Regions from separate parts of the Homo sapiens genome. Here regions 1 and 2 are each reported to be linked to region 3. The links are microRNA targets in miRTarBase. Many come from high-throughput screens and were not tested one by one. Region 3 holds a microRNA gene; each other region holds the end of a gene's coding sequence.
The links. Region 3 holds the annotated microRNA hsa-miR-3143 (AUAACAUUGUAAAGCGCUUCUUUCG, at 5,926-5,950, opposite strand). A microRNA usually pairs through its seed, bases 2 to 8, with sites in the 3' UTR of a target mRNA and lowers its output. Matches are read on the target gene's strand: a 7mer-m8 pairs with bases 2 to 8, a 7mer-A1 pairs with bases 2 to 7 and ends in A, and an 8mer does both.

Region 1: miRTarBase lists NDUFB5 as a target of hsa-miR-3143. Seed matches in the 3' UTR shown: 8mer at 9,314-9,321, 8mer at 9,199-9,206, 7mer-A1 at 8,516-8,522 and 7mer-A1 at 6,057-6,063.
Region 2: the mRNA of KMO is a reported target of hsa-miR-3143. Seed matches in the 3' UTR shown: 7mer-A1 at 9,974-9,980 and 7mer-A1 at 9,723-9,729.

The regions. Positions count from the first base shown.
Region 1 is chr3:179,622,817-179,633,655 of GRCh38, reverse strand. It overlaps NDUFB5 (NADH:ubiquinone oxidoreductase subunit B5), which reads right to left. Exons shown (of 6, transcript NM_002492.4): 6 at 6,009-9,736. The coding sequence ends at 9,616. Among named protein-coding and RNA genes, the nearest start is that of NDUFB5, 23 kb to the right of the region's middle.
Region 2 is chr1:241,591,226-241,602,275 of GRCh38, reverse strand. It overlaps KMO (kynurenine 3-monooxygenase), which reads right to left. Exons shown (of 15, transcript NM_003679.5): 15 at 6,634-10,323. The coding sequence ends at 10,123. It overlaps OPN3 (opsin 3), which reads left to right. Exons shown (of 4, transcript NM_014322.3): 3 at 4,279-4,530; 4 at 7,585-9,152. The coding sequence ends at 7,848. Among named protein-coding and RNA genes, the nearest start is that of CHML, 44 kb to the left of the region's middle.
Region 3 is chr6:27,142,529-27,153,578 of GRCh38, reverse strand. MIR3143 (microRNA 3143) reads right to left here and starts at 5,953; the gene lies at 5,891-5,953. H2BC12 (H2B clustered histone 12) reads left to right here and starts at 6,724. Exons shown (of 1, transcript NM_001312653.2): 1 at 6,724-7,218. The coding sequence starts at 6,781. The coding sequence ends at 7,161. H2AC12 (H2A clustered histone 12) reads right to left here and starts at 6,473. Exons shown (of 1, transcript NM_080596.3): 1 at 6,017-6,473. The coding sequence starts at 6,450. The coding sequence ends at 6,064. RefSeq lists a silencer at 4,258-4,307 and enhancers at 6,087-6,336, 6,667-7,126, 6,381-7,297, 7,717-7,826.

The DNA of each region.
Region 1 (10,839 bases), not on the chromosome of region 3:
GCTTTGTCACCACATGTACAGTAAAGGAACAGTCAGCATGGCACCAGCCAGGTGGAGAATCCATATGCATAATAAAAGGTTATGGTGGGGTGGCCAGCTTCTTTGCGCTATGTAAATGGCACACCTGATCTGAGCAATCTTTTGGGCCCTATGTAAATCAGACACCACCTCCTCAAGCTAGTCTATAAAACCCTGTGCATTTCAACACAGACCCAGAAGATGTGCTCTTGGGAGCCCCTCTCTCTGCAGGAGAGCGCTTTTCTCTTTCTTTCACCTATTAAACCTCCACTCTTAACCTCATTCCTTGTGTGTCTGCATCCTTGATTTCCTTGGTGTGAGGCAACCTCAGACATTATCCCAGATGAACAACAACGCTTCACTAGGACCACAGGTGATAGTTTTTAAAATTCTTTTTGTAGGGATGGGGTCTTGCTCACTATGTTACCTAAGCTTGTCTTGAACTCCTGGCCTCAAGCAATCCTTCCACCTTTGCCTCCAAACTGCTGTCCTGGGATTACAGGCATGAGCCACCACACCTGGATTATATTCTTTTTTTTTTTTTTTTTTGACATGGAGTTTTGCTTTTCTTGCCCAGGCTGGAGTGCAATTGCACAATCTCAGCTCACTGCAACCTCCGCTTCCTGGGTTCAAGCGATTCTCCTGCCTCAGCCTCCCGACTAGCTGGAATTACAGTCATGTGCCACCACGCCTGGCTAATTTTGTATTTTTAGTAGAGACGGGGTTTCTCCATGTTGGTCAGGCTGGTCTCGAACTCCCTAACTCAGGTGATCTGTCCGCCTCGGTCTCCAAAGTGCTGGGATTATAGGTGTGAGCCCACGCCCAGCCTATATTCACATTTTTAATGAACACAGTCCACTCACTGTTTTCAAAATAAAGTGTTTATTTTTTGTTTGTTTGTTCAATGTTTCTTTGTGATTGGATTTAGTCTGAAGTCTGTTCAACTTACACCATGTCTTTTTATAATGCCGGGCTCCTGTAGAATTGCAGAAAAGAAAAAAGATTATTTAAAGATAACCCAAAACCTGGCTGGGCGCAGTGGCTCACGCCTGTAATCCCAGCACTTTGGGAGGTGGGCGGATCACCTGAGGTCAGGAGTTGGAAACCGGTCTGGACAACATGGCGAAACCCCATCTCTACTAAAAATACAAAAATTAAATGGGCCTGGTGGTACACGCTTGCAATCCCAGCTACTCCAGAGGCTGAGGCACGAAGATCACTTGAACCTGGGATGTGGAGGTTGCAGTAAGCCAAGATCATGCCACTGCACTCTGGTCTGGGTGACAGAGACTCTGTCTAAAAAATAAAAATAAAAAAGAATAAAGATAACCCCAAACCATGTTAATCCCATATATCATCCACTCAACAGATCTTTACTCAGTGTCTACTGTGTTCCAGAGGGTACGAAACGAGCTGGGGATAATAAGATGAATAAGCATGGCACCTTTTCTAAAGGAGCTGTCAGGTCAGTAAGACCTGATGATTTGTATACAGCCTAATACAATAGAAAATGTCATAACAATTTTTTAAAATGCCATCCTATGGAAGAATTCAGGATGGCACGCGTTCACCTTTGACTTCATAAAGGAGGTAGCTTCTGAGCTAAGACTTGAAGAATGAGAATATGATCAGTCATTCAAATGGCAGATGTGACAATGTGGCTTATTCTGGGAAGAGCAAGTTGCTTAGTAAGTTTATGGGCCAGAGTGATGTGAGAACTTGTAGGGGGTAAGATTAGACAGTGTTCAGCTGGGCGTGGTGGCTCACACCTGTAATCCCGTGCTTTGGGAGGCTGAGGCAGGTGGATCACCGGAGGTCAGGAGTTCAAGACCAGCCTGGCCAACATGACAAAACCCCATTTCTACTAAAAATACAAAAATTAGCCAGGCACGGTGGTGGGCACCTGTAGTCCCAGCTACTCAGGAGGCTGAGGCAGGAGAATCACTTGAACCCAGAAGGCAGAGGTTACGGTGAGCCGAGATCACGCCACGGCACTCCAGCCTGGGTGACAGAATGAGACTCCCATCTCAAAAAAAAAAAAAAAAAAGAAAGAAAGAAAAAAAGATTAGACAGTGTTTCAGGCCACTACCTGAAGGCTATTAAAGATCAGAGGGTGTGATTAGATTTAAAAATTAGAAAGATCACTTTGGGTAAGTATGGTGAAAGGTTTGCAGTAAGGGGAAACTGGAAGGAAGGATACCAATATAATTTAGTTGAGTAACAGGGATCTATACCAGATGAGCAAGGATATAAAGAGCTAATTAGAAGCAGAATGGAATGAGAGTCCGCTCTTTGAAGACAACTTCAAATCCTTCCAGCTTCCATGCTCAATTTTGCATAATACACCAGTTCTTCAATCTAAACGTCACACTTCCCCACTTCACTTCCTCCCCTAAGAAGATTATTTCCTGGTTCATTGTGTCAGACACTCTCCTTAATGCCATAGGTTTCCTTTCCCCATGGTCCTTCCATTGCTCCTGTCCAAGCAACCTTCATCCTCCAACATCTACCTTCCCTGCACATGCACTCAGGCTACTAAGTGCTGCCAAAAGAGGCCACCAACTTCACAGGTAGTGCCACAATGAATAAATGGTTGCCAATCTCAAATGGGCTCTCGATGATGCTTAGTCAAAAGACCACTTTCCCCATGTTATCTCACTCTCCTATTCTCTGCAACTACTTTCTTTTCTCAGTTTTCTCAAAATCCCACTTCCCCTTACCCTCTCAGCAGATGACCTTTCCTCTTGCACCAGCAAAAAAGAGAAATTATCAGGTAAGAACTATGCCAGCCTCCTACCACCAAACCTACTGCCTAATCTTTCCCTTCACCTCCCTAGGATCTCCTTTCCTCCTGCCTTCCCAGATATCTCAGCCCATCAAGTACTCCTTTTTTTAATCTCTATCTTCAACCTCTCCCTCTCTACTACCCTTTCTGCTCAGCATTTAATATATGGAAGCCTCTCCCCACAAATTGTCCATTGACTAGCTCCTCCATGTGCTGTTAAATTTACCTACCTCTTTTCTCCTCTGCACTGCCAAATGTCTTGAAGTTGCCTCCCTTCCATCACTCCCCGTCTTCCTCGGCCTAAACTGGCTTCTGTTCCACTCAACCATAGCATCTGTTTCCATTGAGGTCACGAATGGCCCCCGGGTTGCTAAATCAACTCTTTTAATCTTTTAGTCCTTACTTTTCCCTCTCAAAACACTTTCTTCTCTTAGCTTCTGTGACACCACCTTCTCATTTTCTTTTGCCATGAATATTACTGTCTCCCAGGACTCTGTCCTAGGTCCTTTTATCTCCCTACACTATATGGGAGAGAAGGTCTGCAGGGATCTGGAGCACCTCAAAATCAAGTCCAAAACTGAACTCGTCTTCTGTATCAAAACTGTTTCTCCTATCGATCCTCCCCATTTCAGCAAACAGCAGCAATACCCCATTGGTTAATCCAGAAATAGGATTTATGCTTCACTCCTTATTTCCATTTCCCAAAACACTCAGTTGATTCACCAAGTCTTGTTAATTCTATCACCTCAATATCATTCAATTTCTTACATTTGTTTTCATCCATCCCCATTGCTACTGGCCTCACCTTGTGATCACCATCTCTCACTTGGATGATCAGAACAACTTTCCAACTGGTTTTCCCTGCATTTATGTCAGTTTTTCTCAATCATTTTTTCCACTATCACCCCCTATGGAGCATGTTAGATTTTTTTCCCCAAATTGTTCCTTCCCCTACCATAAAATTTTAATACCACAAATGTACTATATATCTGCTCATGTATGTATAGCTATGCTTTGTACATAAAAAAGTAAGATCTTTTTATCCCCCAAGAACCAATTTTTGTCCCCTTTAAGGATAATATTGATTCCATTGAGAATGAATAATTTACACTCACTATCTTTAATTTGTTCTCCGCCATGTAGCCAGCGTGATCTTTAAAAAACAAATCCAATCATGTCATTTCCCCATTTAAAACACTTCAATGACATCTCATGGTCCTTAGGATGAGATCCAAATCTTCACCGAGAGCTGAAATAGTGCAAATAATCTCATCCGCACTCTCACCTCACTCACTTATGCCCTATATTTCAGGCTTCTCCAAACGGTTTTCATTTCAATTTTCTCTTGCCTCTTATTTTCTCTACTTGGAATATGGTATTCTTCCCCTCCCTCCACGCATCCTCGGGTTACAGCTCACAGTCATTCCAGTAACCCTTGGGCTACCTTGGGACCCCATAGCTTACTCCAAGTGCTTACTCCAAGTGCCTTTTTCTTTCCCTTGACCAATATTGAACACGTTTAACTATTTGAACTTTTAAAAAGTTAGCATAAGAATCAATATAAACACATATATTAGCTTTAATTGACACTTTTTTTTCCCAAGAAACACTTTACAACTTAAAAAAGAAAAAAAAGGTCAATCCCATTTTATTTTACTTTTTTTTTTTTTTTTTTTTTGAGACAGTCTCGCTCTGTCACTCAGGCTGCAGTTCAGTGGCATGATCTTGGCTTACTGCAACTTCTGCCTCCCAAGTTGAAGCGATTCTTTTGCCTCAGCCTCCTGAGTAGCTGGAATTACAGGTGTATGCTACTAGGTTCGGCTAATTTTTTGTATTTTTAGTAGAGACAGGGTTTCACCATGTTGGCCAGGCTGGCATTGAACTCCTGACCTCAAGCAATCCTCCTGCCTCATCCTCCCAAAGTACTGGGATTACAGGCGTGAGCCACGCACTCCACCACAAAAGCTGATCCCATTTTTTATACGTGATCCCAGCTGTGTTAAATAAAGCCTAGAGGAAACTTCTGAAATGTCTTTATGAACGTTAGGATTATCAGTATTTATTGTATATTTTCCATATTTTTTATTCTAAGCTTTTCTTACATTTATAATAGTAGAAAGGAGAAAATAAAGTAAAAACTACAACTGTCAAAAAACATCCTGTAGGTTATTTTTTTAAGGTGAATATATCAAAGCATATAAATCTAGGATCATTTACTATCACCATGTACGAGAGCTATCTGCTTCAATTCTCTTTATCCCTCTTCTACAAACTGGTTTGCATAAGCAGGGGCTTTAGAGAAAATATGCCCTTCTCCCAAATCCTTTGGCAGAATTATGAGGTGGTAATTAGATTGCATAGGGAAATCTAAAAACAAAACAAACTAACAACAACATAAACCTAGGAATGAATTTATCCAAAGAAGTGAAAGATCTCTACAAGGAACACTATACAACACTAATTAAAGAAATTGAAGAGGGCACCAAAAAATGGAAAGGTAGATATCCCATACTCGTGGATTGGAATAATCAACATTGTTAAAATGTCTGTACTACCCAAAGGAATCTACAGATTCAATACAATCCTTATCACAATACCAGTGACATTCTTCACAAAAATAGAAAAAAAAATTCTAAGATGTATATGGAACTACAAAAGATCCCACATAGCTGCCAGTGTCTTCAACAAATTGTGCTGGGAAAACCGGATATCCATATGCAGAAGAATGAAACTAGATCCCCATCTTTCACTATATATAAAAATCAACTCGAAATGGATTAAAGATTAAATGTAAGACCTGAAACTATAAAACTATTAAAAGAAAACATTGGGGAAATGATAGAGGACATCGGTCTGGGCAAAGATTTTTTTGGGTAAGATCTCAAAAGCACAGGCAACAAAAACATAGAAAGACAGATGGGATTATGTTGAGCTACAAAAGCTTCTGTAGAGCAAAGGAAGCAATTAAAAAAGTGAAGAGACAACCTACAGAGTAGGAGAAAATATCTGCAAACTATCCATATGACAGAGTTTGGATATTCGTCCCCCCAACTCTCATGTTGAAATGTGATTCCCAGTGTTGGACGTGGGGCCTGGTGGGAGGTGATTGGATCATAATGGCAAATTTCTCACGAATCGTTTAGCATCATCCTGTTGATGCTGTCCTCACAATGTTGCAGGATTTTTAAGGAATCAGAGAGACCGATGGGGTTCAGGAGAATATTTATTATTTAGGTGCTCCGGCCCAGTCAGATTAACATCCAAAGGACTGAGCCCTGAACAAAGAGTTAAGTTAGCTTTTAAGCATTTCGTGGGGCAGGGGGAGATCTGTGCAGGGGGAAGCATATTACAGAAGCAAGAAACAAAGACAGTTATTCAGTCAAGACATGCATTACATCATTTCTTACTTTTCAAGGAAAAACATGTTTTGCGACTTGAGTTTATCTGTCTAGTGACCTTGCAGCTGCACAGCTAGGGAAACAGGGTCTTCACAATGCCTGGGAAGGGAGGAGAGCTAACACTCACTAGCCACCAGAAAAACAGGCAGTGAATTTTTAAAGGACTCCAGCTCTTTCTCTTTCTCAGGGGGAATTGGGTTTTCTTACGTACAACTGAGTTTCTGCTTACACACTCTTTGATTTCTTTTAATTCCTTTTCTAACAACAATGAGTTCCTGAGAGATCTGGTTGTTTAAAACAGTGTGTGGCATCTCCTCCACCTCTCTCTCTTGCTCTCTTGCCATGTGATGTGCCTGCTCCTGCTTTGCTTTCTGCTATGAGTGAAAGTTCCTTGAGGCCTCCCCAGAAGCCAAGCAATGCTGGTGCCATGCTTCCTGTACAGTCTGCAGAACTATGAGCCATTTACACCTTTTTTCTTTATAAATTACCCAGACTCAGGATTTTCTTTATAGCAACACAAGAATGGCCTAACACACCATCTAACAAGGGATTCATAACCAGAATATATAAGGAACTCAAACAATTCAATAGCAAAAAACCCATAACCTGATTAAAAAATGGACAGGCTGGGCGCAGTGGCTCACACCTGTAATCCCAGCACTTTGGGAGACCAAGGTGGGTGGATCACAAGGTCAGAAGTTCAAGATCACCCTGGCCAACATGGTGACACCCCCTCTCTACTAAAAATACAAAAAAATTAGCTGGGTGTGGTGGTGCACACCTGTAATCCCAGCTACTCAGGAGGCTGAGGCAGGAGAATTGCTTGAACCTGGGAGGCGGAGGTTGCACTGAGTCGAGATCGCACCACTGCACTCCAGCCTGGGTGACACAGCAAGACTCCATCTCAAAAAAATAAAATGGACAAAAAGGCCAGGCACGCCTAAAGTACCTGCACTTTGAGAGGCCAAGGTGAGCGGATCACTTGAGCACAGGAGTTCAAGACCAGCCTGGGCAACATGGTGAAACCCAGTCGCTACAAAAAATACAAAAAAATTAGCTGAGCATGGTGGCACTCGCCTTTGGTCCTAGCTATTTGGGTCATCCTGAGGTGGAATGATCACTTGAGCCCAGGATGTGGAAGCCCAGATCACCTCCAGACTGGGTGACCCCAATTCAAAAAAAAAAAAAATTTAAAAAAAGGGCCAGAGATCTGTATAGACATTTCTCAAAGGAAGACATATGAATGGCCATTAGATATGTGAAAAAATGCTCAACCATAATTAGGGAAATGTAAACCAATACCACATTAAGATATCTCACCCCAGTTAAAATGTTCATTTGAAAAAAAAGAAAAAATAACAAATGCTTGTGAGGATGTGGAGAAAGGGGAACGCTCATCCACCATTGGTAGGAATGTACAGTAGTACAACCACTATGAAGAACACCATGAAGGTTCCTCAAGAAACTACACATAGAATTATCATACAATCCAGCAATCCCTTTGCAACCTGTGTCCATCAACAGATAAATGGATATAGAAAATGTGGTATGTATGGACAATATTATGAAAAAGAATGGGATTCTGTCATTTGTAGCAACATGGATGGAACTGGAGGTCATTAATGTAAGTGAAATAAGCCAAGCCTAGAAAGACAAATATTGAATGTTCTCACTCATATGTGGGAGATTAAAAAATGGGTCTCATGGAGGCAGAGTAGAAAGGTGGTTACAAGGCTGGGAAGGGAAGGGGAGAGTAGGAAATTCAGAAAAGTTAGTTAATGGTTACAAGAATACATTTAGATACAAGGAATAAGTTCTAGTATTTGATAGTACAGTAGGTAAATTATAGTTAACAATAACATATAATAATATACTTATATATACTTCTAACTTGCTATATCTTATTTTGAAATATATAACTATATTTTGAAATATATGTATATTCAAATACCCTGATTTGACCATTATACTTTGCATACATGTATCAAAATAGCACATTACAAGTACATTATCAATAAAAATAATAAAGTTATTTGTTGAATGAATGGCCTGTGGCTTTTCAATTCACTTGTGTGTTTAGGCAGCAAAAAATTATTTCTCCATTTGGCCTTAAGTGGAGACCCACTGGCCTGAATCTTAGGAAGCCTGGGTTCATTTTTATTTTTATGAAGAATGTAAAACATACTTCTAAGATGAGATGCATTGATAAGCTGTTACAGGTTTGAAAATCCTGAATGTTTATGGTAAAAAGCCATTTTGGAAGTTGAAGTGTAAATGTTTTAAATGTTTATTTTTGTAAATACTGAGTTTGTGTTTAACATCTGAGCCTCAGGTACTAAATACTACCTCTTGTCATTTTGAAAATAATGTTGGGTGCAGTGGCTCAGGCCTGTAATCAGCACTTTGGGAAGTGGAGACAGGCCAATCACCTGAGGTCAGAAGTTCAAGACCAGCCTGGCCAACACAGCGAAACAGTCTTTACTGAAAAATACAAAAATTAGCCGGGTGTGGTGGTGGGTGCCTGTAATCCCAGCTACTTGGGAGGCTGAGACAAGAATTGCTTGAACCCGGGAGGCGGAGGTTGCAGCCGAGATCACGGCACTGCACTCTAGCCTGGGTGACAGTGCAAGATTTCGTCAAAAAAAAAAAAAAAAAAAAAGAAAAGAAAATAATGTTAAAAAATGCAGTTATTTAATATAGTGTCTAGCAGACAATAAATGCTTAATAAATGAGTCATTTTTAGCTTTTACTCACATTTTATAATCTCTGCAGGAATCACATTACCTAGTGCAACTACTTCCCCAAAAAAGGACTCTAAGGGATCCCAGAGATTGCATCTAGGAAAAGAGCGTGTGTGTGTGTGTGTGTGTGTGTGTGTGTGTACGTGTCTGTGTGTCTGTGTGTAGTTTAAAAAAGAACAATACATGGCAAAAAAAAAAACCATGAAAGCATTATAAACTTTAAAATTTGTTTACTGAGAATCTGTTTATTAAGGAGTTAACATTTTAGAGTTGGTTCAATACTTTATGGAACTTAAAATCCTGAGTTGCCCCTCAATAATACAGACATCTACAGTACAGGCATTTGTACAAAATACTATAATTACTGGTGCTTAACATTATTAGACTTCTATAACTTCCATTTGTCAGGTAAATAAAACACTAACCTTTCAAAGTTGCTACAATTTTAGGAGTTCACAAATTCCTATTTCTCCAGTTTTTATTAGTACATTTTAAACCTTCTTTGGGGACTGGAAGCCAAACTCCTCAAACAAAAGCCTCAATCTGAACCAACACTGAGAGACAGTAATGTCAGAGGCTCTTTTGTTTTTCACGGAGAGCAAAAATACAGAATATATTTATTAATTTATTTTCCAATAAAGAGAATATACTTTGTATTTGGAGAAAAAAATGCTTAATTGTCAGGAGTTGCTTTCGGAGAATGATCAATAAGTTCCTTGTCAATTGTCTCATAGTAATACCAGGGTCCATCTCCTCTCACATGCATCAATTTTCGCACTTCCAGCTCCTTTACCCTGTAACAAATGGAACAGCAATATTGAGATTCCAGCACTTCCAATTATAAATTTAATGAGCCATTTCCATAAAGGACAATCACTGGAGTCTGCTTTTATGTAAAGTATAATGCTCCTCCACAGACCCTTATGTAGGCATACATCTGGTATATATCTATAACCAAAATTTGGGACTTATTTTTGACTTTTATTATGTTGCTTATATAGATAGCTATCAAACAGTTTTTTTGTTGTTTTTGTTTTTTTGAGACGGAGTCTTGCACGGTTGCCCAGGTCAGAGTGCTATGGCGCAGTCTCAGCTCACTGCAACTTCTACCTCCCAGGCTCAAGTGATCCTCCTGCCTCAGCCTCCCAAGTAGCTGGGACTACAGGGGCCCACCACCATGCCCAGCTAATTTTTGTATTTTTAGTGGAGACAGGGTTTTATCATGTTGGCCAGGCTGGTCTCTAACTCCTGACCTCGTCGTGATCTGCCTGCCTTGGCCTCCCAAAGTGCTGGGATTACAGGCGTGAGCCACCGCACCCGGCCTACCAAACAGTTTTTAACACCAAAACATTACTCAAATTGATAGCGAATTCTCTCCTTCAGTGTGCCTGCACAGATCACTTTCATCTGAATTGTTACAGTGCTTTTCCTATCTTCTCACCTTTTAGATGCTAGGAGAGTCATTTACAGAATGTCTACTACTATGGCCATATGCTGTGCCAGGTGTTAGGAATTAACAAATGAATAAGCTTTTTTGGAGTTTCACATCTTGTGTCTGCCTATCACCATTAGGACAGAAAACTTTTCGAGAGTAGAACTGGTTTTTTATTCACCAGCATTATACCAGGCCCGGTCAACATCAGATACTCAGTCAATATTTATACAAACATAAATAGAAAGCAAGAAAAATCAAGATTAAGAAAAATATTCTCCAACTCTAACATCTACTTACTTGTCCTTGTCCTTCTTCACAAATTGAATAATCTCTTATTTTATACAGGTGCTTTCCCTCTTCCATATCTAAGTCTTTGCACAAACAATCACACATTCCTGAAGTAGTCCCTTCTCCATCAAACCTTTTACTTTCTGTTTTTATAGAATACATAGTTTTTCATAG
Region 2 (11,050 bases), not on the chromosome of region 3:
CTACTTTCTTGTGGTGGTCTCCTGCCATCGATTCTAGGGCGCCTTTCTCTGCTGTCTTTGTTGCTGACTCTCTGGCGCCATCTTCTTATCTCTTCCAAGGGCTTCTCTTCTTTGGGCCTCCCCAGCATCCTATGTTTAGCTCTTGTCCCATGCTACACACTGGCCTTGGGTGGTCTTTCATACTGCCAGGATTTCTCCTTCTGACACAAGCTTGATAACATCTCCATTTCCAGTTCAGGTCTTTCTTCCAGCCTCTAACAGATCCTCGTAGTCAATTGCCTCTTGAACACCTCCACTTGGATGGTCCACAGACTCATCAAATTTAACAAATATAAAGATTAATTTGTCATATTTTCCCTAAAATCTTCTGCTCGTCTATTTGCTTTCTCATTGAATAGTCATCATTCCTAGATACCAAGACCAGAAATTAGGGAGTAATCTTTGACTATGTGTCATCCATGTCTCCCCCAACACACAACTATTGATCAGTTCTTATCCATGCCACTTACATGTTTTTTTGTTTCGTTTTGTTTCTGTTTGTTTGTTTGTTTTGTTTTGTTTTGTTTTTTGAGACGAAGTTTTACTCTTATTGCCCAGGCTGGAGTGCAATGGCAGAATCTCGGCTCACTGCAACCTCCGCCTCACAGGTTCAAGCAATTCTCCTGCCTCAGCCTCCTGAGTAGCTGGGATTACAGGTGCCCACCACCATGCCTGGCTAATTTTTAAAATATTTTTAGTAGAGATGGGGTTTCACCATGTTGGCCAGGCTGGTTTCGAACTCCTGACCTCATGATCTGCCCGCCTTGGCCTCCCAAAGTGCTAGGATTACAGGTGTGAGCCACTGCTCCTAGCCCTATATTTTTTGGTATATCCATTTTTTCCTCTCCCACTGCCACAGACTCAGTTAAAAAAAAAAAACTTAGTTCTCCTTTTTAAAATTTTTGCTTTCCTCTATTCCATTCTTTACACACTGCCATCAGAGTAGTTGTTCTCAAGTATTACCTTCAGAAGTTCCACTGTCTTTGTGACTCAAAATAAAGCCCCTGGGTGTGGCCGGCAGGTCCTGTATGGCATCTCCTGTCTACCTGTCCAGCCTCATTTCTTGACACTCCTGTCTTCTTGCCACCTCATGATGCGGCCAATGGTAATATTTCTTGTTTTCAGAAACTGACTTTTTATTTTGCCTCTTGTCTTAGCACACTTTCTTTCTCTGGAACATTCTGTCTCTCCTCCTTACTTGACTAATTCCTCCTTCCCTCACAAGGCTAACAGCACGATTTTCTTGCTCTAACCCACCCTCAGAACCAGTTTCCCATCCTGTGTACTACCATATCCTCCCTGTTTACCTCCCTCATGGCTTCTACCCGCTCAGTGTGCATCATCCTCACCAAATAGTGAATTCCTCAAGAGCAGAGACTGGGTCTTATGTATTTTCTCACCTGTGACTGGAACAGTGTCTGCATGTAGTAGGTAATCAGTGACTATTTTTGGAATGAGTTACAAGCAGAGGGCATAGAAAGGGGAAGACAGGAGAAGGGGTGAAAGTGTGAAGAGATTTGACTTTAGCTGCTATCTAAACAGAGAGCTCACTGCAAGTAATTTGCCTCCGTTTCCTTATTCAGAGAGAGGTGACTCATAACAACGATGGAGACATAGCTACACACTTGAGAATGAAGATTCACAGTGAAATTCTTTGAAAATCTACAGATGTCTTGGATTAAGGAGCACTAGGCACCAGCCATTTATACAGCCAGAGAACAATCTGATAGAGAATTCTGAAGAATTTGTCTTAGCTGGTTCATTCTTTAGGACAAATTTGTGCCTGTGCCAATCATTTCAAAATTGCTTCATCCATAGCAATTTTGAAAACTATCCTCAAATGATTGAATAAAGAGGGTAAGACATGAAATCGAGTTTTTTATTTGGAAAATATTTAATGAGCAGAATGAAGGAATAGAAAGTAATGAAAGAAAGAGGCCTGAAAAAGATAAATAAAAAATAATCATGAAAACTTCACATATATAAACCCAAATAATCTAAAACATTAGTCAATATCTTCTCCTTATCCCAAAGAGGAACTGGGGATGTATAGACAAACATTTATTTAAATTAATTTCCCCAGCATGCATGTAATTCCAAGATGGATAAATGAGTGTTCTCCTTTGATAAATGGCGAGAGGGGATAAAGACTGACCTGCCCAGAAAATGGTACAGATAAAACGATTGGACCTAAATACTGGAGGTTTGGGAGGCAGATAACTGAGATGTGGTTATGTTGCTTGTTAATTGAAACTCTGAAGAGTCAATAATGATTCCAGATATCCTATAGTATCATAAATGTACATATACATACAAGTGTGTTAGTCTCATATCTAGTTCAAATATAAATAAGTATTTAACCTCAAAAACAACCCCACAAAGTCATACGTGTGGAAATGGAACTCAAGTTCTGTTAATTCTCATAGGTTTTTTTGCTTTACCTCCTTTCTTGTTTACTCTTAGAGGAGGTTGTTGACTTGCTCAATATCACACTGCGAGCAAAAGTGGTTAATCTGGGATATAAACTTAGATCTTCTAATTCCAAATCTAGACCTTTTATCAAAACCCCACAGCCTTCCTATAAACTAGGGAAGCTCCCCCAAAATGATGTTTTGAAAATAGAAAAATATTCTATCCCATTAAATAAAACAGTTTCTTTTAAAATAGAATTGCACACACAGAATAGTAGTATTCGGTTGGTGCAAAAGTAATTGCGGTTTTTGCCGTTAAAGGTAAACCTTTAAAGGTAACCTTTTTTAAAGGTAAATTATTTACCTTTCTGCACACCAAAAATATGTTCCTAAATAAAAATAGTTATCTCTGAACATTGTAATAAGTTATATGAATTTTACTACAAAAATACAAATACTTTATATATTGATTTTTTAAAGTAATTGGCATAGTGGTAAAGGAATATTATTTACCTTTAAATAAGGTGACCTTCAAAGGTTTACCTTTAATGGCAAAAACCACAATTACTTTTGCACCAAACTAATACCAGAAATTTAATACCCACTTTTCCCTGCACATAGTCTCTCTACCCTAAAAAAATCAATGATTTAAATTTTTCCTATTTCTCTCTATTCTTTGCTAATCTGAATACATGATTTTGATAAGAATATAATTTCTTAAATATAATTTTGGATATCAGTAATTTGAGAATTTTAATTAAAATATATTTCTAAATAATCTAAGCACATGTTCTAAATGATTTCTTTGGAAATTCTTTCTCTTAATTTTTATGATAATGCTAGAACCAAAAGGTACACTTAGAGTTCATTGAAATGCAGTAAATTTCCAGGCATAAAGTAATCAATACTAAGTATTAACTATATGCTAACTACTTAAAAAATCAATATATAGAGTATTTGTATTTTTGTAGTATAATTCATATAACTTATTACAATGTTTAGAGAGAACTATTTTGATTTAGGAACACATTTTTGGTGTGCAGAAATATTCTTTGCCTGTGTATTATTATGACACATATATAATAATAGGAGAAACAGCAAAAAGAAACATATTCAAGAAACTCAAAGAACTTTCAGGCTGTACATCATTACTCCTCCATCCCTTTAATGGGAACAGACTGCGAGTAGACAGGCTGGTTTTAGAGGAAGGAGTTGTTTTACCAAGTGCTGTTCTCTGCAAGTGATCCCCTAATGAAGCCAATCACAAACAAATTTCTCCTGAAATTCTACTTTACAGTCATTAGCAGTGAATTGAAAAGCTGGTTTTCAGTAAGAATTCACTTGGGAATTAAGTGCTCATCAAGGCCAGCTGCAGGCTTAATCATGCAGAACACCTGACATGACATGGGTGTGCAGTCTGATTTGAGAACTGGAGGACTAACACTCTATAGAGTTTCCAGGATCACAGGGAAATTCTTTGCATTTTATCGTGACTCTCTCAGGCTGTCTTTTAGAGACTTGAAGATCTAGGCAAAATAATGTTATTCTTATTAAGTAAATAAGAGAACGTCAAAAAAAACACTGAAGGATGTAGGAGGCTCTGTAGCTCAACCACCCTATGTTGTAAGTGGGGAGACTGAGGCCCGGCAAGGTTAAAGCTGGACTCAGCTATGAGTCTTGGATCAGAAGTCAGCCTGCCAAGGTGCCATTCAGTTCTCTTTCCATTTAGGTGGGGCCAAGAATGGTGTCTGAATATCTGTTATAAAAACAACAAAAGAAACCCTTCTTTTGTTTTTTAAGCCCTTTCCTTTCTTTCTCCTTTCTGCAGCTTCGTTGTGTGGAAGATCTTCAGACAATTCAAGTGATCAAGATTTTAAAATATGAAAAGAAACTGGCCAAAATGTGCTTTTTAATGATATTCACCTTCCTGGTCTGTTGGATGCCTTATATCGTGATCTGCTTCTTGGTGGTTAATGGTCATGGTCACCTGGTCACTCCAACAATATCTATTGTTTCGTACCTCTTTGCTAAATCGAACACTGTATACAATCCAGTGATTTATGTCTTCATGATCAGAAAGGTAAGCTTTGCAATTAACTGATTGTTTTCACCCTGGGCATAGAGTTGGAAATGACAGTGTAATACTTTTACAGAGGTGATTCAGAGTCGCTTCAATTAAAAAAAAAACAAGAATTTTTTAGGAATTAAAGGGATCTGGAAGAAATGTAGAATATTTCCAAAGAAAATCATAACAATTCTAAGAACTACCCATAGGGATTCACACTTGTTAGGTAGAATTCTAGTAAAACTAATATTTAATTCATCAGAAAATAGTTTATGCCTAGTAATAACAGCTACAATGTTAATAATACATTTAAAATTCCTACTGTACCAAGCAAGTTACAAGCAAGTCACAAACAAGTTACAAGCCAGTTTACAAAACTCCACAAAATAGGCACTAATATTATTCCTTGTTTTATTTATGGGTTATGAATAAGTTCAGAGAAGTTAAATAACTTGCCCAATCCAGGAAGTATTGGTGCCAGGATTTGAACCTAGTTTGCTCAAATCCCCAAATCCAGTGCTTATAACTCCTCACTTGGGGTTATAGATACTTGTAGCAATTGGCCTGGGTTGTTATTCACATGCCACAGCAAATGTCTAGCCTAAATTAATTTGGTTCAAGAAACTTCCTGGGCCTGGTGTGGTGGCTCAAGCCAGTAAACCCAGCACTTGGGCATGCTGAGGCAGAAGGATTGCTTGAGCTAAGAGTTCAAGACCAACCTGGGCAACATAATGAGATGCCCCGCTCTCTCAAAAAAAAAAAAGAAAAAATTAGCTGGGCATGGTGGCATGTGCCTTAGTCGCAGCTACTCAGGGGCCTGAGATGAAAGGATCTCTTGAGCCCAGGAGGTCAAGGCTGCAGTGACCCACTATCGCACCAGTGCATTCCAGCCTGGGCGACAGAGCGAGACCCTGTCTCAAAAAGAAGAGGAACTTCCTTATCATCTGTTTCTGTAGTTGAAAGGTTTTGACTTGATGGCTATGAGTCATGGCTAGGAGAGCCCACAAAATGATTATTATAAAGCTGAGCCTCTACGTTTCAGAGAATTTAAAAGTTAAAGATAATGCTTAATTACTCCATTGGAATTTTAAAGATAACAGGTCATAATAATAACAGGCAATAATAATCACTGTGACTTCTAATGCTCAAGAATGTGGAAGAAGAGGGCACTTTTGTAATAACCTTATTATGTTCAGTGCTAAATCTCTCTGCCTCTTATTTTGCCTTTCCTTCTCTTTGAGTATTATTGGCTTACACTCTCCATAAACTCACTTTCACCTGCCTTAATCTCCTCTCACTGACAGTGTTTCTTTCCCTGTTTTGTTGCCTTCAATTGGTCTATTTCCTTTAACCCAGAGATTTTAAACTTGGAGTCCATAGGACCTAAACATTCCTTGAGTTGGCCTCAGAAGAGCCACTGAAACCCTGGAAATTGTTTATAACAATTTTTTAGTATGCACACATATGAATTTTTCTAGTGAGATGGTTTATAACTTTAATTTTCTATCAGAGGTTAAGATATTTTAGGGACCACCCTCTCAACAGACAAAATTAAAATACATTAACTAACAATTATTTGTTGCACTCTTTCTCTCAGCCAATGGGCTATAAATTAGTGCTTCTAGAACTTTAATGTGCATACACCACACCTGGAAATCTTGTAATAAATGAATATTCTCCTTCAGTATGTATGGTTGCCCAATATTCTGCATGTCTAACAAGCTCCCACATGGTCCTGATGTTTCTGGTTCCTAAGGGCATACTTTAAACAGGAAGTCTAAAAGATACAAACAAAAACAAATAAATAAAAACAACGGTCCTTGTCCTCAAAGAGCTTACCATTTATATGGAAAAACGTTTTTTGGCATACATACTCTATTTAACCTTTACAGTAATGTATCTTTAACACTTAACCAAACAATGGTTTAGTGAATAAAGTCTCAAACAAATATTTTTATTTTTTAAATTTTTGAATCAGATAGAAAAAATAAATATTTTTAAATGTGAGTATAAACTGAATGCTAACTTGCATAAGATTGGAGCTCAAGACATTATCAGGCAGTGTTTGCTGTAAAACAAAACAAAACAAAAAACAAACAAAAAAGACAGAAATCAATGTAGCTATTTATTATATTTTTAATTGGTATTTCCTAATCTGAGAAAGTCCATATATTCAACATTTATTTCGCTCTAAATAATGGGATAACAATTACATTAACTTTTGATTTATGTTTTACTGGTCATGATGGACCGACTACTATAACAAGCAACCCCAACATTTCAGTGAATTAATACAGAGTTTATTGCTCATTTCAGGTCACAGTTCAGTCTAATAATGTATTGGGTGGAGGAGATGGGATCTGTCCTATGCAGTCATTTAGGAATCTAGGTTCCTTCCATTGTGTGATATTATGATCTTTAGGCGTTGGCCTCCCAGGTTCTTGTAGAGAGGAACAGCAGAGAGGAGAAGCGGAAAGGAGGCCAAGAAATATTATTCGATGTTGTACCCAGGACACGGAGAAGAACAATGTTTGTTGATGACATTAGTGCTGTCTGCTATAGTATTTTTTTCCCCAACTGATTAGTAATTTCGATAGAAAAAAAAAATTCTTCACCTAATTAAAGAGACATTAGCAAGTACACCAGGCTGTAAACTCTGCCAGGAAGAGCCTTATCTGTTTTTGATGCTTATAGTAAAAAGTCTCTAATTATAGCACAGTGGCTGTCACCTAGTAGATGCCCACTGAATATTTGTGGACTAACTTAATGTTCAAAATCTCTTAATAGTTGTACCTGCCCTCATAGAAAGTGTGTGCAGATTGAAGCTTGGAGGATTACAAGGTATTGAAATGGTCCTACATATTCCGGTTAATAAGAATTAGAATGAATAAAAGACATAAAGCTCTGGGGTGATTTAGGTAGATCTGAGCATGACCACATAACCCCACATCCACACCTGCTAACAAACAAAAAACAACTTAAATTCAGCTCAACTGATTTCCTCGAATGTTAATCCAGATTAGTGCCCAACTTTTACTTAATATTCCACTTTATTTTTTCTCTGCCCAGTTTCGAAGATCCCTTTTGCAGCTTCTGTGCCTCCGACTGCTGAGGTGCCAGAGGCCTGCTAAAGACCTACCAGCAGCTGGAAGTGAAATGCAGATCAGACCCATTGTGATGTCACAGAAAGATGGGGACAGGCCAAAGAAAAAAGTGACTTTCAACTCTTCTTCCATCATTTTTATCATCACCAGTGATGAATCACTGTCAGTTGACGACAGCGACAAAACCAATGGGTCCAAAGTTGATGTAATCCAAGTTCGTCCTTTGTAGGAATGAAGAATGGCAACGAAAGATGGGGCCTTAAATTGGATGCCACTTTTGGACTTTCATCATAAGAAGTGTCTGGAATACCCGTTCTATGTAATATCAACAGAACCTTGTGGTCCAGCAGGAAATCCGAATTGCCCATATGCTCTTGGGCCTCAGGAAGAGGTTGAACAAAAACAAATTCTTTTAATTCAACGGGTGCTTTACATAATGAAAAAACCACTTGTGGCACACGATGGGCATCTAACATCATCATCTTCTAATGTGTTGGAGATTTTCATTTCAAATATATTTTTTAAATTACTCTATTTTCCAAAACACGTAATGCATTTTTCTCGAAAATACCTTACTGTAAAAATAACTGTCGCGTACACATGTGTGAAGTAGCTAGAACATACTGAATTTTTTTTGTACTGTTGGACTCTATTCAGTGTCATGTCCTATATCTGATCAAGTTATCAAGGAGATAATTCTAGAATGAAAAAGAAAATCCTCTTGTTGGAAACAAAAGACGTTTTATATGTGCAGTATGACAAAGAGGAGTTTCAGAGACAACTTTGAATCCTTGTCAGCCTGGAGACCAGCACCAGAGGAATCTACAAGGCAAACTCCCATATATTTGCTTCCCCCAAATTGCTGCCCCTACAGACTCAAAGCTCTTTTTCTTTGTTTTGTTGTTTCTCTAAAAATTTACTGTTCTTTGTCGATGCTATATAAGCCAGGGAGTTCTAAGACGCCAGCTCTTTGAGATTTGCTCATTCCCCTGTATTTCCCACATATATATTACATATACCCGCTAATAAATTTATGTTTGTTTTTCTCTTGTCAATCTGTCTTTTGTTATAGGGGCCCCAGCCAAGGAACCTAAAGTGGGTAGAAGGAAAAATTATTTTTTCTTTCCCTACAAACTGAACATGGATTATTAGAACTCAAGGTTTTCATTGACAATATAGAAAAGAAACACTGAATCATTTTATTTTATTGCCCAATTTTTATTTCTTATATGACTCTAGTGTTTCATCTTCATAATTAATCATGTTTGAAGGATTTCTGAGTGACTCAGCAGCCTGTTAAAGAAGGATGAACCAAAGAAAACATTTCACTAAATGTGCTTTTAAAAATCAAGTGTATTGCTGGTTCTGCTGCAGTATGTAGTCGAAGAATAAATTAGTAAATTGCTTCTGAGGGTCTGAAATTGAATAAAGTAATGGCTTTGTATTTCTATAAAAGTTGTCTCCCCTTGTTTCCTTTCCATTCTGGCACATGTAGACATTTAATTTATGAATAAAACCCTTTCCTGTCCTTCACTTAGTATGATATTAATAGCCTTTTTCTTATCTTTAGAGGGTAACTCTGGGCTGGCAGCGGTGGCTCACAACTCTAATCCCTGTACTTTGGGAGGCTGAGGTGGGCAGATCACATGAGGCCAGGAGTTTGAGACTGGCCTGGGCAGCATGGCAAGACCCGGTCTCTACTGAAAAATACCATGGTAGCCCCAGCTATTTGGGAGGCTGAAGTGGGAGGATTGCTTGAGCCCAGGAGGCAGAGGTTGCAGTGAACCCAGATCTCACCACTGCACTCCAGCCTGGTCAACAGAGTGAGACCTGATCTCTAAATACATAAATAAATAGAGATAGATAGATAGATAGATAGATAGATAGATAGATAGATAGATGATAGATAGATAGATAGATGATAGATAGATAGACGATAAACAGATAGATGATAATACTTATATTTGAAGGTGGGAAAATAAAATGAGTTCATTTTGTAAGTCTCTGGAACTCCCCTGAATTCCTTATTTCCATTTCTGGTTTTATCTAGTAAGTCTGAGCCCTGTGGTTAGGTAAGTTCCATTCACGTAATGAAAAGTGCAGTTAACATGCTAGTTAAGTTGTGATTTTTAGTCCTAGGTGTTGAGTCAATGCTGTTGCGAGTCCTATTGTGTCTTTTAAAGAAAAGGCATGATTACTGTCTTCCCTGAGGCATCTAGGGCCTTACTTTCAGAGAAGTGAAGGATCTTAGTCATTGCACTTTTATAGTTAGAATGACTCAACCTGAGTGTGTGTAATGTAGGGAAGCTGCATGTTTCATCTTTTAAAATGCACCCCCCAACCAGTAATTGCAATTAACATACAGAGATACTCTACATTCAGTTTAATTATAAGCAGAACACTATCTTCCACTAGTGAATCAAATATGGCAATGGAAACATTTTTTTCATGCTTAATTTTGGTCACAGAGAAATCATGCATTTGCTACCACAAAACCTTTCTATCACCTGCTAATGAGATTGGAAATTTGTTCTAGGGAGTCCACGGCCTTTGCGGGGAAACATGTTGTATTCCGGAAGTGAGCTATCCAGTTCCATGGTCTTCTCAAGCGGAGGAAAGATCGTGGTGACATGTAGTGTATAAGTAGGTAGGTACTGCTGATGGCTATCAGTGATCCCAAGAAAAAGAGTCCTTTGTTTATCACCTGTAAGACAGCAAGAACTCTCATTTCATTTGTCCAGAGATTAAAATCTGAAAATAGACTTCATTTTTTAACAACAAAGGGGTAAACAATGTCCTCTTTGTTCTTTAACCTGAAACAACAATTTACTTGCATGACCACCAGATCAGGAACTGATAAGATCAAGATAAAGTCAAGGATTGGGAGCCTCCCTTCTCCCTCTCTCCCAGGAAACTCATGAATCCAGGTCTTCTGTATGAAAAAAATTTAGCAGTCAGCTTTTGTCCAGCCATTAAAAAACCTTTGCAGTTTAGAAAAAGAGCTGTGAATTCTTAGAAGAGTACTGCTGTGCTGGGGCCACACATCATTCATTCCTTCTCAGAAGCTTCCCAAAAGTCTCCAGGAGAAGAGTGGTGGCCTGGTGGCCTCTGTGACTAAGACTTATGTGGAGACTAAACACCAGCTGTAAACAGTGGCCTGAGGCTCATTCCAGCCTGAGTCAGGTGCTTTCCCATGGCATCCTGGCCTATTTCTTTTCTTTTTTTTTTTTTGACAGAGAAATCTACTTGAATACTCACATGTAAAAGTTACACATCACAAGAGATTGGACAGTAGCTTAGCATAACTAACATAGCTATAGTGAAAATCATTTTTATAAAAAATAATCTAGATGTGGTCATCAGAATTTTTGGTCTGCTTAAGTTAATGTTTGAAGATTGACTTTTATCCCTCCTTGAAGGATTTGCCTGGC
Region 3 (11,050 bases):
ACTTTTTACCCCAGTACATTCTAGGAAGGTGAAGACTAACATTTTAGTTTTAAAGTAGGATTATGAACAAACTGGCATCACCCCCATGAGCTGGCTGTGATTTCACAAATTCCATGTTGGAATGCAATGCAGACTTTTCACTTGAGAAAAGGATAGTACATGCCAAAGGGCAAAAGGGATGGACTGTGCTAGATATTTACTTTTGCCAGCCTAGATTCACTGTCCTCTTCTTTTTTTTTTTTTTTTTTTTCTCTGAGACAGAGTCTCGCTCTGTCACCCAGGCTGGAGTGCAGTGGTGCAATCTTGGCTCACTACAACCTCTGCCTCCTAGGTTCAAGCGATTCTTCTGCCTCAGCCTCCCAAGTAGCTGGGATTACAGGCGGCCACCACCATGCCCAGCTAATTTTTGTATTTTTAGTAGAGACGGGGTTTCACCATGTTGGCCAGGATGGTCTTGATATCCTGACCTTGTGATATGCCCACCTCGGCCTCCCAAAGTGCTGGGATTACAGGCGTGAGCCACCGTGCCCGGCCCACTGTCCCCTTCTTTCATCCTGTGTCCCTAGGAGGCTGATCTATACATGAATTTGATCCTTGTCCTTTGGCTGCTGGTCAAATTTGGCTGATGAAAAGTGAAAATATGTCAGAGAGAGGAAGGAGTTCTTTCTGTTTCCAGATTTCCTTTCCTCTCATTGCCCCTTTGGGCCTAGGTGTGGTAATTACTTATATATGGTATTAGCTTCAAAATACTGCACTATCTCTTGTGGCTTCCTAACACCTTGCTCACTTCTTTTTCAATCTTCAAGCACCCAATTGGTTGTTGTTGTTGTTGTTGTTGTTTGTTTGTTTTTTGAGACGGAGTCTTGCTCTGTCACCCAGGCTGGAGTGCAGTGGTGCAATCTCAGCTCACTGCAACCTCCGCCTCCTGGGTTCAAGGTCCTGCCTCAGTCTCCTGAGTAGCTGGGATTACAGGTGCCCACCACCACGCCTGGCTAATTTTTTTGTATTTTTAGTAGAGACGGGGTTTCACCATGTTGGCCAGGCTGGCCTCGAACTCTGGACCTCAAGTGATCTGCCCGCCTCGGCCTCCCAAAATGTTGGGGTTACAGGCATGAGTCACTGCATCAGGCCCAAAGTACCCAATTTGAAGGACTAATCTCTCCTGATGGGACACTGGCTGACATATTGACCTCTTTTAGCTTATATGCTGCTGTGTTTACAGATATTAAATGAAAATACAAATAAGATATTTACTTTCAAAATATAGTCATTGACATGGAGTTTAAACCCATAAGAACAGATGATCTTAGCCAAAAGGCTGAAAACACTTGGTCTTAGCCAAAAGGCTGAGAAGCGGTGATGATGTGGAGTTTAAGAACCTGATCTGGGCTGGGCGCGGAAGATCACGCCTCTAATCCCAGCACTTTGGGAGGCTGAGGCCGGCAGATCACGAGGTCAGGAGATTGAGACTGTCCTGGCTAACACAGTGAAACCCCATCTGTAGAAAAAATACAAAAAACCTAGCAGGGAGCGGTGGCACGCGCCTGTAATCCCAGCTACTTGGGAGGCTGAGGTAGGAGAATCACTTGAACCCAGGAGGCGGAGGTTGCAGTGAGCGAAGATCGCGCCACTGCACTCCAGCCTGGACTACCGAGCAAGACTCCGTCTCAAAAAAATAAAAAAAGAACTTGATCTGGTAAACCCAGAAGGCATAACGAGAACTAAGAATAAGAGAATACCTCATTGAGGAGGTGCCATATTATGAAAATTGAAGAATGAATAGGAGTTACCCAAGGAGAGGCTGGTAGGACAAACACTCTGGGCTTGGGAAATCGCAAGTGCAAAGCTACAGGAGTACCAGATAGAATCAGACAGACCAATCCCTGAATACACTTTCTAATTCCAGTCCGTTAATTTTATTAAATCTTACAGCTTCAAGTAAATTAGAAAATGCACTGGTTTCTTCAAAAATGGCAATTTTGCTGTGAATAGAAAAAAGTTAGCAATTCTGCTGTGAATAAAGTTAGCTTTTAATAAGTCAAGCAATATCAACGTACACCAGCAATTTTACCTCCTTTTTTTTTTTTTTTTTTTTTTTTTGGTGTTTTCCTTTGTGTGATTCCAAGGCATATTTGGGATCTCAAGTTGATTTACTGATGGCCAGTTCTGAGTCCAGATACCAGTCAGCCTTGTAAACAATCACTATTCCTCCCAGGTGTTTACTATTACACATAGAATCTAGCTTCCCAGGTAAGTGAAGCCATGTCAATAGTTAGCCTGATATAAAATTATATTATTCCGTCTTTAGTTAAGCACCCTTCATTATCCATAATCACATATATTTCCCATATTTTGTCATTGTTAATTATTTAAATCATGCAGCTCCTCTGGGGTATAAACCTTCACATATTTTTAGATGTGACTTTACTATTTTGATTTTCTCAGAATTATTCCTTACAAGGAATGCATGACAACGACTCCATCTGTAATAGGTATGAAGATGAGGGGGAAGGGCGGAACTGAGGAAAAGCATGTATGTATGCATTTTAAAAATTGTGTGTGTTTTAAAAATATATTTTTTTAAAGTATATATTTTAAGTGTGATTCCCATTTTCAGGAATCTTTAGCTATTCACTTTAAACTATTGTAAACACTGTTTGAATAATTAAGTCTAGTTTTATTCTTTCTCATTTGGTATCTATTAATTCAGATATGATCATGATACTCTTCTGGTAGAACCTTTCAACATCTCCCTTTAACAATTCTTACCCAAGTTTCTATATACCTTAGACTAAAGCACATGAGACCAGATAGTTAAGAGAAGGCAGTTATGTGTGTGTTCCATGTTGAGTAGATAATATTCTGATAGCTTTTTCTCCTACTAATTGAGAATCTGATTGGATAAGTAACACCACACTTTCTTTTCCAAATTAGAGTCCAAACAATACCCACCTCAAAAGGTTGTGAGAAATAAATAAGCACATTCATATTGCATATGTAGCCCATAAGTGGTCGGCACCAAATATCTCTTATAGGTGTTTTTTTTTTTTTTTTTTTTTTTTTTGAGCTGGAGTCTCACTCTGTCACCCAGGCTGGAGTACAGTGGCACAATCTCGGCTCACTGCAACCTCCGCCTTCCGGGCTCAAGCAATTCTCCTGCCTCAGCCTCCCAAGTAGCTGGGACTATAGGCAGCTGCCACCACGCCCGGCTAAGTTTTTGTGTTGGGATTACAGGCATGAACCACCGCACCCAGCCTAAAATGTGTTTCCACCTGGTTTCGAACCAGGGACCTTTCACGTGTGAGACTAACGTGATAACCACCATACTACAGAAACTCATTCCATGGTTTTTTTAAAGGTTTCCTCTCCTCTCTTTTGAGCCTCAAATATTCATTCTGAAGTTTCTTCAGTATGGGGCAAAGCTGGATTATTTCTCAGTACAGGAAAAGTAAAGAGATTTGCTGAATCTGGGGTAGGAAAAGTTAGTGGAAGAATCTCCCATTTCTTTTATAATTGTTTTCTATCACCTTCCATGTGCAATGATTGAGGCATTTAAAGCTCTTACAGGAGTATATCAAACTAATAAAGATTTTTAGAATGTCTGTACATTTTCTTATTTCTCTAAAAAGAAAAGACCCGCCCCTCCCCGGCCTTTAAATTCCCTGATGAAAGTAATTACAGGCTCATGCCTGTAATCCTGGCACTTTGGGAGGCCAAGGCAGGCAGATCACCTGAGGTCAGGAGTTCGAGACCAGCCTGACCAACATGGTGAAACCTTGACTCTACTAAAATTACAAAATTAGCCGGGAGTGGTGGCACACACCAGTAATCCCAGCTACTCAGGAGGCTGAAGCAGGAGAATCGCTTGAATCTGGGAGGTGGAGGTTGCAGTGAGCCGAGATCAGGCCATTGCACTCCAGCCTGGGCAAGAAGAGCAAAACTTCATCTCAAAAAAAAAAAAAAGAAAAAGAAAAAAAGTCAAAGAGCAATACCAGCTATGCACTTATGCATGCTAAAGTCAGTCTCACAGATACTATCATAGACCTTACTTAACATTGATATTTATATTCATGTTAATATATGTCATAGACATGGAAATACACTGCCCAGATCCTCCTTCAAGGAAGGGCTTGCAGCCCAACTGCAGAGAGCACAGTTAGCAGATAGACACCAGCTGTTAGCTTCCTCAGTGTTTGCCTCAGCTGCAGAGCTCCTCCCCACTCAAGGCTGCATCCTTCCCCGGGCAGTCCTCATTCAGTGACCCACAGAGGAGTTAAAAAGGGTGGTCTAGAGCCCCTTTGGCCCAATGTGGGGGCAACTTGACAGGCATACTGGCTCCAGAGCTCTCCACTGGGTTGGTTGAGCATTTGTCTGGCCTGTATCATAGTTTGACATTTTCCTTTGCCCAATCCTATTTCCTTCACCCCTTCACAGATATTGAGCCCTAATAAACATTTTGCATCCCAAACTCCATCTCAGCATCTGTTTATCGAGAACTCATATGTCACTACATTATAATTTCTCGTTCTGCATCTCTTGCATTTCTTTTTCAATTGGGCTTCTGCATGCAAAGACTGGGAGTAGCAAACAAATCTATGTGTATTGAATTACAAACTATGTCCTCTTAAATCTTTGTGAAATACATAAAGTTAATACTATTTTTTGGTGTCTTTTTTAAGTGGCTTGAATTCCGTAGAGAAAAAATAAAGATGTATACATGTAATATTTCAATTAATATATATCCTATCCCCATAGGCATAGAGAGCGTAATGGGGCCCTCCATTTTAGAGAGGAGATAAACAAAGATGACCTCTTTATAGGTGTTACTTGATCAGAGACCTACATAGATTGAAAAAAAGTGAGAAAGGTAGTTATCAGGGGAAGAGGGAATTTAAAGTGCAAAGGCCTTAAGACAGAAAATGTGTTTGGCATTTTGTGGGAATAGCCAGAAAGCCTTGAGGCTATGAAGTAAAAGCAGGCCAAGTAATATCAAGAGGGGGTGGGGCGGAGGAAGGAAACTCATAGGGCTTCCTAGGGTAGGTAAATTAATGTGGACAAGCAATCAAAAGCAATAGCAATCCCGATCTAATAAATTTGATAATACAAATTAGCTAGACAGAAAAAGCTATGTTGTATCCTAAGCTACTACAAGAGTGCATTAATACACCTGCTCCAAAGAAATGGGACTAAGGATTTACAAATATGGGATTCAGGAAATTCTGCATCCCATATTCTCCTTCCATCGGAATCAAATTCTAATGCAAATGAGTCACTAGACTTTCATCACCTGGGTAAAGTTACTCTTAAGAGTTAGACCACTTAAGAATCAGGCTGCCCTTTCTTGCTTTTCAAGAATACTTAGAATTGCAAAATTTGCCTTTAAAGAATGGCAAGTATATCCCATTTTTATGGCTGTTTGACAACACTATTAATGTAATAGAATTATTACACTGGAGGCCGGGCGCTGTGGCTCACGCCTGTAATCCCAGCACTTTGGGAGGCCGAGGCGGGCGGATCACCTGAGGTCAGGAGTTCGAGACCAGCCTGGCCACCATGGTGGAACCCCGTCTCCACTAAAAATACAAAAAAACTAGCCGGTCGTGGTGGTGTGTGCCTGTAATCCCAGCTATTCGGGAGGCCGAGACAGGAGAATCGCTTGAACCTGGGAGGTGGAGGTTGCAGTGAGCCGAGATCGCGCCGCGCCACTGCACTCCAGCCTGTTGGAGACTCCATCTCAAAAAAAAAAAAAAAAAAAAAAAAACCACTGGAATTAGTAAATAGATTTCAGGGATTTGTACGTTTGATTTCACTTATTACCCCTGCTGAATAAGCTTCTCCGGAGTATCCTACAACAACTTTTGGGTCTTCATTGCTTTCCAGTGGGTTAATTTAGAAACATTGTAAAGAGTTGCTCCAGCCCAACCGCGAAAGAAGCGCTTTACAATGTTATCTAGCGAAGCAAACATGAAGTGAAACAAACATGACTGTGTCCAGCTTTCTCTAAGACAGTGTAGAATGGCTCTGAAAAGAGCCTTTGTTTTCCAGTTTTCACAACCTCGCTCCTTATTTGGCCTTATGGTGGCTCTCAGTCTTCTTAGGCAGCAGCACGGCCTGGATATTGGGCAAGACACCACCCTGCGCGATGGTGACTTTGCCCAGCAGCTTGTTGAGCTCCTCGTCGTTGCGGATGGCCAGTTGGAGGTGACGCGGGATGATACGGGTCTTCTTGTTGTCGCGGGCCGCATTGCCAGCCAGCTCCAGGATCTCAGCGGTCAGGTACTCCAGCACCGCAGCCAGGTACACTGGCGCGCCGGCTCCAACCCGCTCGGCATAATTACCCTTGCGGAGCAGGCGGTGCACTCGGCCCACGGGGAACTGAAGCCCAGCCCGAGAAGAGCGGGTCTTGGCCTTGGCGCGAGCTTTACCGCCTTGCTTGCCACGTCCAGACATACTGGTCACAACTTACTGAAAGTAGCCAACGAGGAAAGGCAGCGCCTTTTATAAACACTATTGGGCGCGAAAAAGAAGATATGTCATTGGTTAGGGTTGTAGCTTAGTTTTAACCAATGGAAGTACGTCTTTTGGATTTGCAGATTGGGTTGATTGGGTATAACTAACCTCTGACGTCACCCTAATAACCACCAATCAGATACAGGACTTTCACTCTTCACCTTATTTGCATGAGAGGTCCTATATAAAAACGACTCCTGGTACCTTGCTCCCATTACTTCCCGTTTTCTCGATCTGCTGCTCGTCTCAGGCTCGTAGTTCGCCTTCAACATGCCGGAACCAGCGAAGTCCGCTCCCGCGCCCAAGAAGGGCTCGAAGAAAGCCGTGACTAAGGCGCAGAAGAAGGACGGCAAGAAGCGCAAGCGCAGCCGCAAGGAGAGCTACTCCGTATACGTGTACAAGGTGCTGAAGCAGGTCCACCCCGACACCGGCATCTCCTCTAAGGCCATGGGAATCATGAACTCCTTCGTCAACGACATCTTCGAACGCATCGCGGGTGAGGCTTCCCGCCTGGCGCATTACAACAAGCGCTCGACCATCACCTCCAGGGAGATCCAGACGGCCGTGCGCCTGCTGCTGCCCGGGGAGTTGGCCAAGCACGCCGTGTCCGAGGGCACCAAGGCCGTCACCAAGTACACCAGCGCTAAGTAAACTTGCCAAGTAAGCGTCTTAAAGCCCAACCCCAAAGGCTCTTTTAAGAGCCACTTAAATTATCGATATTAGAGCTGTAAACACGTGTTCCTAATCCAGGCTTAAATTCGGGCGATCTTTTTAAAGGGATTATCATGATCTTATCACACTGAGTAATGCATGCAGTGCTTGTAATCGAGTCTGGCTAAGGAGAAGCCACATACACTTTGTTAGTACTGAGTGAGGAATATGGCGCCTAAAAAATTAGGGATGTGCAGGAAACTTGTGTTAACAGAAAGTGCTTCCTGGCTCTTGGCGCGAAAATGGATACTTCCGTTGTGTCGAGTGCTGTGACTTCCTGTTAGAACTTGTTGAAAGCCTATTGTGTCACGTGTACTTTCCACCATGTAATGGCGTTCTAACGTGAGTTTATATATTAGTAAATTTGGTTCCCGATGGCGTTCCAGTACGTATGGCTTTCGCTCGAGCAGTTACCTTATTTAACCTCTTCTAGGCTGTACCCAGCTCTGCCTTGCTTTGCTTCCCCCTCACCCCCTGATTCCATCTCTGCAGCCCACGGGACATCGGGAAGATGCCAGACCACCAGGCAGGATAGTCTGCAAGGGTAAGGGGAGGAGCACAGCTTTTCTCAGGAGTGAAGAAACGGAACATGAAATCATCACGGAGATTTTTGGAATAGTTTACTAGTTTTTAAGGCATGTTCAGCGTCAATTGGTCCAATCAGTAATTTTTCCTTTTGACAAGAAAGCTTATAGAAAAGGAAAATGAAAAGCAAGTAGATTCAGAGGGGAGACAACAGACAGACTAGAGACAGTCCGCCCCGAAGCAAGAAGTTGGAGTAGAGGAGAAGGGAACTTCCCCAGCAGCACAGGGTTTGAGCTAAGTGTTAGGTGGTGGGTTAGAATTAGGTGGTGGGTTTTATTGTGTGATTAGAGGCTAGAATGACTATGCCGGTGATGAGCAGTGTGAAACTTTTTTGGAAGAACCAAGTGAAAGAAAGAGTCCACGAATTTTAAGCTAGGTTGTTACCTGGCTAAATTTGTGATTTAGAAATGTAGGCCAGTTTCACAGGGGAATTTTGTGTGTGTGTGTGTGTGTGTGTGTGTGTGTGTGTGTGTGTGTATTTAACATATTTGGCCACGCATTGTTCTAGTCTTTGGGGATATTGCCCGCCCTTAGGCATTTGGAGATTAGCAGGGTCATATTGAAAAACTTCATACATGCAAAGCATATGTTCACTGTTGATCCAAGTCTTATTTATCCTACCAGTAATTTTGGGGTTACATTAATATTCTAAGAAATGTATCAACAAATAATTATATTTATTGTTTACCTATATAGGAGGCACTGATCTATATCTATACCTATATAGGAGGGCAGATCACTTGAAGTCAGGAATTCAAAACCAGCATGGCTAACATAGTGTGAAACCCCGTCTCTACTAACAGTACAAAAATTAGGGGGGGCGTGGTAGCATGTGCCCGTAGTCCCAGCTACTCGGGAGGCTGAGGCAGAATTGCTGGAAGCCAGGAGGCAAAGGTTGCAGTGAGCCTAGATCACCTCACTGCACTCCAGCCTGGGCAACAGAGCAAAACTCCGTCGCAAATAAAATTAAAAAATAAACTAAAATACACTATGCCAATGAATTCTACCTTCAGGTATACCTGACTACTTTTTATAGACTAAAATTTTTACTCTGGAGCTATCTGCTGTTATTACCTTTAGACTTACAAACTATTTTTGCAAATGGACATATCATCTTGATTTTATACAATTTACTTTCAGTCCTTTTTGCTCTTTTTACAAAATTCTGGAAGTGCATTTGTGTTTTAATAGAAATACTGGGTGGAAGTGGCCATAACTTTCTCCTGCTTTCACCCTCACCCCTTTTCTCCCTTCAAAATGATCTCATTTTATTTCTCTTGATAGCACAGATTCCGCCCCCCCCCCCCCCCCCAGACAGAGTCTCACTCTGTTGCCCAGGCTGGAGTGCAACGGCGAGATCTTGGCTCACTGCAACCTCCGCCTCCCAGGTTCAAGCGATTATCTTGCCTCAGTTTCCCGAATGACTGGTATTACAAGTGCCTGCCACCATGCCCAGCTAATTTTTGTATTTTTAGTAGAGATGGGGTTTCAACATGTTGGCCAGGCTGGTCTGGAACTCCCGACCTTGGGCGATCCACCTGCCTCGGCCTCCTAAAGTGCTAGGATTACAGGTGTGAGCCACCACGCCCGGCTGATAGCACAGAATTTAACAGCTTGAAGGAATCAAAAAGTTCAGATCACTGTTATTTTACAAATAGCTAAATGGATGCAAAGCTTACTTTGCTCAAATCATTAGACTCAGAACAAGATTCCATTATGCTCTTGTTTGTTTCCATTATACCATATATCTCTTTGTCATCTATTTTCTCATTAGCCACGTGTATTAATTTGACTTAATTTGGAGCAAAAATAGGGCTCTTTTAACTTATTTATTTGTATATTTCATAATCTCTTTTAAATTGTTAAAAAGTTGAATGTGCTAAATTGTCTCCTGTCTCATAAATTTTTTTTTTTTTTTTTTTTTTTAAAGAGTAGTTCAGTGCTTTGCAATAATTGCTGTGTGATTCTGGACCACAGCAATTCAATCTAGCAATTGTTACAGCCTGCTGAAGAACGCTTGCACAGAATAATTGCCTGCTTCAGATTCTCCCATCCTTTGGGAAACTGAGAGTAGCTCTGGGATTGAAAAGTGGAGGTTTATTTAACTGTGGTTAGGGACTTGGCAATCATATGTTTGGTCTCTGCTGTTATCTAGTATCTTTAAGTCTAGAAGTTGGAAGTAAAGAGGTCAGTGGACCTAAGAAAATGGCATGGCTTTCTACCCTAGATGAGCTGGAAAAACTTAGTAATTCTTCAAGTGCTTAATACAAAGGAGCAAATCTCACAACTCAATGCCTATGAATTGTAATATATCATGTCACTACTTTCTTGATATTACCTGAGGTATAAGTACAGTTGGGAGAAGACCTTATCTCTATCTTCAGGAATATAAGTGAAGGAAAGGAAATTTTTTTCTTTTTTTTGAGACAGTCTTACTCTGTCGCCAAGGCTGGAGTGCAGTGGCACTGTGTCAGCTCACTGCAACCTCTGTCTCCTTTGTTCAAGCAATTATCCTGCCTCAGCCTCCTGAGTAGCTGGGATTACAGGTGCCCACCACCATGCCTGGCTAGTTTTTATATTTTTAGTAGAGATGGGATTTCACCATGTTGGCCAGGCTGGTCCTGAACTCCTGACTTAAGGTGATCCACCTGCCTTGGCCTCCCAAAGTGCTGGCGTGAACCGGGCCAGTGAGCCACCGCACTGGGCCTGGGAAATTTGTTCATTTGCTTTATCCTACTTTCTCATTCTTTATTGAACTAGGATTTTTTTGTCTTTATTGTATGTGTCTGAAAGCCAGTTTGTTACTCTTAAGACACTACTCAAATAGAAATATAATGTGGCCACGTGCGATGGCTCATGCCTGTAATCCCAGCACTTTGGGAGGCCGAGGTGGGTGGATCACAAGATCAGGAGTTTGAGACCTGCCTGGCCAGTATGGTGAAACCCCGTCTCTGCTAAAAATACAAAAATTAGTTGGGCATGGTTTCACATGAGTGTAGTCCCAGCTGCTTGGGAGGCTGAGGCAGGAGAATGGCTTGAACCCGGGAGGCTGAGGTTGCAGTGAGCCAAAATTGTGCCACTGCACTCGAACCTGGGCGACAGAGCGAGACTGTCTCAAAAAAAAAAAAAAAAAAAAGGAGGGGGGGAATGTAATACGTCATACATGTACTTATCTTTCCAGTAACCATTTTTAAAAGTTAAAAAAAATTGTCTGGGCACAGTGGCTCAAGCCTGTAATCCCGGC